Linked DNA regions of Homo sapiens: region 1 is linked to region 2. A link means that fine-mapping ties the variant in region 2 to the expression of a gene that starts in the linked region. Tissue or cell type: whole blood. Region 2 holds a variant in brackets; the other region holds the start of a gene. All regions are shown on one strand. Distances are from middle to middle.

Region 1 (2,500 bases), 73 kb after region 2:
AAACAAAGGATCTTGCTAACATAATCCCATACCAGTAACACACGATTTATTCCAAACCAATTACTTTAATTAATAGCATTCCTAATGCAAGGATTTTTTTTCCACCTGATCTTTATCTTGCTAAGCTGACAAAACAATTCATTTAAACCCCAACCACTGAGTTAAGTGAGCTTTTAAATTGATCTGTGCACTAAAAAACCAATTAGGTATCCAGAAATTACAGAGCATGCTTAAAAGCAATTTTTTTAAAAAAATGATTTATTGAAAAGGTAGAAAAAAAACGGGCCTTAGAAAGGGATTTGCTCTGCTTTTTGCTTAGGGGTGAAGAGGTGAAACTGTCACTCCTAGATCTCGGCTTGGAAATTGTTTTTTAATCATCTCTCTTGGAAATGGAGGCACAGCCAGCCAGCCCAATCCCCTCGCCGCCTCCACGCGTCAGCTTTGCGCATCAGTTGTCCCCGATTTCTTTTCATGCCCAACCTCACAACAAGGAAAAGCAGGGTTTTAAGCAATTTCAAGCCAGGCAGAACGTTGAGCCAGTGATGACAATAAGCCGCTCAGTTCGCTAACAATCAATCAGAGAAGGAAAACGGCTCAGGCCGGGCACCTTGGCAAGTGAGGACTCTGCACCCGGGGCACCGGTGCCAGCCCGCGCTGCAGGGCAACGCCCACCCGCCCACGGTGCCCGGCGCCCACGCGGGCGACACCTCCTCGCAGAGCCTGGACGCCGTGCCATGCCCGCGGTGCCGCGGCCGGGCAGGGGTACCCCCGAGGATACCATGGCGCCCCCGCCCCCTTTTTCCCTTTGTTGCACATCCACCCGAACCACCAGGCACGCTGCACCGACCCCGATCCTGCTACGGGTCGGCGGGGGACTCCCCGCAATAGAGTCAGGCCGCATCCACGCGGGCACTGTAGCCTCCTCATTGTGGAGACGATGAAACGGAGCATACAGACCGTCTCCTGCCACCCTATGTGGCCGCCAGTCCCCGGACCACAGTTACTGGGGGCTGCGAAGTGGCTGTACGCGTAGACACCGACCTCCGTAGCAGCCCTCGCGAAGCCCGGATGCGGGGCGACCCCGCGCGCCCTACCTGGATCCGGGGATCCACCTCTTCTTCCTCCTCCAGCCCCTGCTCCATCCCCTCTTCCTCCTCCTCCTCCTCGTCCCGGGCAGGCGGCAGGATTTCGGCTGGCTCCTCCGAGCGGCTCCGCTTCAGTGCCGCGTCCATGCAGGCAGCCGGCACGCGCGCCGCGCAGTGGGCTCCGGAGCGCCCCGGGGGTCGCGGCTGCCACAGGCTGGGCTGGAGCCGCCTCGCCACAGCCGGGCACGGTCGGGGAGCCGCCGGGGCCGACACCCGGGAGACGCAGCTCGCCGATGCGGATACCTCCGGCCGCGGCGGAGCAGAGGAAATGGGCGCGGCCGCCCCCTTTCTGCCGCGGCAGTCAGCGCAGCGCCCGCTCCGCCCCCGTCCCGCCCCGGCCTCGCGTTCCGCCGCCAGTCCCAGCTATCCAGGTCTCCGTCGCAAAACCCCAGCTCCCTCCACATCTCCAAGGTGGCAAAATAGGACAGCCCCCACCCCCTTGTAACTTAGCAGCTCGGATATATCTCAACTACGTAACGCAAGCCTCCCGCTTTCGGGAGTCCCCTCCTCCAGCCCTCCTCCGAGGCTCGTTGTTTGTGTGGTAGGGAGGCGTGGGTGTTTTCACACTGAAGTCGCCTTCTGAAGCCTACGCTCAGTGACCCTGGCCCTCAGGACCAAGACTTGCCGAAACCCTATACCCAAAGCACACTCATCCTCTTGAGCGAACCTTGGGAATGGCGGAGGTTCCGTGCACTGATGCATTGCCGAAGGCTGCGGCCTCTCTGGGCGAGCCCCATACCGAAACACAGAGGTGCGGCGGTCCTACCTGAATAGCCAGGAGCATGGAGAATGCATTGAGCTGGGATTTAAGGAGGTGGCAAGTGTAACCCCTGTTGATGGGCACACTCTGGCCAAGAATTTATGAATTAGTGAGACTTTCTGCCCACCATCAACAAGTAGGGAGACAGAGTTGGCCTGGCAGACACAGCATCCGAAAAGGCCAAACTGAAGAGGCACGTGTGTGTGCTTTTATGAAATGTCAGGGCCACTGTGATGTCAGGGGAACGCAAAGGATGACCTTGGCAAAGCAGATGAGCACATGGCTGCTCACGTCTCCTTGCCTTGAGAAATGCAGAACGTGCACATGTCCTACACGGAGGCCTGTAGCCCATCGGCTCTGAGTTTGGAGGACAAATTTGCTTGAGAAAGGAGCTTCTTTCTGAGAACCTATCATCAAAGCCACCTTACAAAACCTGGGTCTGGCACAACGTGGTGGCTCGTATCTGTAATCCCAGCTCTTTGAGATGCCAGGACACAAGGATCACTTGAGGCCAGGAGTTCAACACCAGCCTGGACAATACAGCCAGACCCCTTCTCAAATGAATAAATAGTCCTGCTCCTGGTGGTTTTATCAG
Region 2 (2,757 bases):
ATGCCTTAGTAATGATGTAAAGGTAGCTTTGAATCAAATCTGATTACAGCTCTTCTTTCCTGCAGGACTTCTCAGCCTTGAATGTTCAAATGTATACTTTGACTCTCAAAGAGGAGTGAAGGTGTAACATTTTCCCAATTTATTTGACCACAGAATCCTGACTTTGAGGAACACTTAGTACCTTCTTAATGAACACAGTGTTCCATAAAACATGGGAACCCACCAGAAATAGCCCTCAGGCCTGCCCAACTCTGAGACCTTTCACTGATGGCCAGAGAAAGTGAGGACCTTGGGAAACAAATCACACAGTCTGATATCTCCCCACATACCCAGTGGAGCCCCTGACTTACCAGAAATGGCATCAGGCTCAGGTTTGCTCCCTGGCAGATCCTCCACAGATGTGCTGCTGCCCTCAGCACCAACACCGCATCCCCGAGGCCCCATGGCACTGGAGCGCCGCCGCTCGTGGATCTCATCTGAGATCATCTCCAGGTTCTTCAGGGCCATCTTGTACTCGCCTTTTGCCAGGGTCAGTTTGGCCTGCAGGTCATCCACAGTCTTTTTCAGTTGCTGATCAAGAGAACAGGAGACTAAGTGAAGACTACCCTGCTAGCCTTAAGATGCTTTCTGAATGACAGGTTCAAGTACATTTTCTGCCCATCATTCTACTTCAAGGAATTTTCCAAGACATGACTGAAGACCTAATTACCATTGTAACTGCTATTCATTCACCAGACAAAATCAGCCACCACCATCCCCAGATCCCATCCAGGTGACAACCTCTAATATCCAAAAACTCTCACTGGTGGAACAAACCCCATCAGGGAAGCAAAAATGGGCATCAGACACACCAAAGTCCCACAGTCTAGACATCTGGTTCCCAGTACAGTGGTTCTCAAAGTTGAGCTTGCATCAAAATCCCCTTGGGTGTTAAGACTCAGCTCACTAGACTCCAACCTCAGAGTTTCTAATTCAGTCGGTCTAGAGTGGGACCTGGTCTATCAGGTCTCCAGGTGATGCTGATGCTGCTGGTCCTAAGAGCATGCTGTGAGAACCACTGGCCTAGTACAACAGAGAAGGTGACTGAATGGCAGTTACAGAGGTTCAGAGACCACTGAAGACCCAACCGAGACAATTTTGAGGTCTGAAAACTCAGTAAAGCCTGTCTCTCCACTTTCCCCTTATAGCAAGTGGCCCATGTGATACTCTGCTACCCCAGAAAAGTGAAGCTTTGAGTGCAGAAAAATCTCATCAGTGACGAAGCCCAAAGCTACACATACCTCGAGCTGCACATAGTACTTTGCCTTGAGTTCAAAATAAGGCCTGCAGAAGACAGGAAGGAAAGCCATCAGAGTAATATAATACAGTGACCACA[G/A]TCAACTCCACAAGATGAACAAGAGGCATCAGCTACCACTGGCCAGGTCGTCCTTCCAATATTTAGTAAACTCTTAACAAGGCCGTGACATGTCAGTGATGCTCCTAGCTCTGGAGACTGACAGACACCAGATGGAACGACTGGGCTCACCCAGGGCTATATTAACAGGAGGCCCATCTCAAGACACGGGGAACCCACACACACATATCTTGGGGACTCTGCAACTTAGCTCATGTTCCTCCTCTGTGGGAAGGCTGTTCAGAGCCTCACAGGTTATACCCAGCAGTAAGGGTGGCCTGGATCTGCTCTCCTAATGAAGTTGGCTCCCCAGGGATGAAGAGCAGCTGAGGCTGGAGAAGGGGCTGCTTAAACCTCCTCCTCTACTGAAGTCAACTGGGGAAGAGAGAGAAGCACCACTCCTCCCTCACAGCACAGCAAGGCCACCACTAGGAGGGGGTCTCAGGTTGGTCCTCCCAAACCTTGTCCAAAGACTGGAGTTATTAGTTGGCTGACTCAGCCACATAATGGGCCCAAGAAATGCCAGCGTCCTAGCAGTTCCCTTGGTTCTGGGTCAGCTGAAAGAGCTTGGCTCTTTTTTAGGAACTTTGGTGCCTGAACATTAAGAGTAGATCACTGCTTTATTCTTGAGCTGTTCACCCTCCATGAAGCTCTCAAGTCCTGCATCCTGAGGATCCAGATGGATGACAAGGACACAGGACTGCCATTGGTGGGTATGAAAATCCTGAAATTTGGGGGGAGAGAGAGGTGTATAAGCTCTCTCGTGTGACCAAAAGGAGCACAAGGTGAAGAGTATGTGTGTGAATGGGCATCGGAGGGCACAGGGAAGATGTCCCAGCAAAAGGAACATGAGCATCCATGCAAGGGAGTGTGGCTGGAGAGGCAGGGTGGGCATGGAGGTGGCCTGGAAGCCACTCTGTGGAATGCACAGATGTACATTTTAACCTTTGGGCAGACAGGAGCCACCCAAGACTACGATCTATCCCTGTACTCTTCTCGGAGTCTGAAAAGGTTGGCAAAGTACAATCACAAGATTTATTTTCTTAAACAGGTTAATGGATGAGTATGTGATGTGTGTGCAGTGTGAATTCGGGGTCTTTTGAGAAAAGACCCACCATATTCACACCAAAGGAAGCAGCATCAAAGGCTGCTCCTCGGCCTCCTTGGGTGTTGGCATGTGGATGATGCCTGGGCTTGCCCAGAGCAGGCACAGGTCCTACAACAACCCTCGCCACCTCCTGCCTCCCCTGCAGAAAAATGCCATATACACGTCTACTACTTAGCTCTCAGGAGATCAGCCCCTGACACACCAAAAACCAAACCAAAACAAAAATACACTAGTCAATTAAGTGCAATAGTAAATG

The links. PIP is the estimated chance that this variant, and not a neighbour inherited with it, causes the effect.
Region 1: SH3BP5 starts here. The variant in region 2 is fine-mapped to the expression of SH3BP5 in whole blood (TOPMed, PIP above 0.99).

What each region holds. Positions count from the first base shown.
Region 1 is chr3:15,331,177-15,333,676 of GRCh38, forward strand. It overlaps SH3BP5 (SH3 domain binding protein 5), which reads right to left and starts at 1,410. Exons shown (of 9, transcript NM_004844.5): 1 at 1,095-1,410. The coding sequence starts at 1,232. RefSeq lists silencers at 979-1,038, 1,119-1,518.
Region 2 is chr3:15,258,481-15,261,237 of GRCh38, forward strand. SH3BP5 (SH3 domain binding protein 5) reads right to left here. Exons shown (of 9, transcript NM_004844.5): 6 at 1,281-1,323; 7 at 351-570. It overlaps SH3BP5-AS1 (SH3BP5 antisense RNA 1), which reads left to right. Exons shown (of 3, transcript NR_046084.1): 2 at 154-2,102. Among named protein-coding and RNA genes, the nearest start is that of SH3BP5-AS1, 5.7 kb to the left of the region's middle. The variant G/A (reference allele first, on the strand shown) is at 1,376.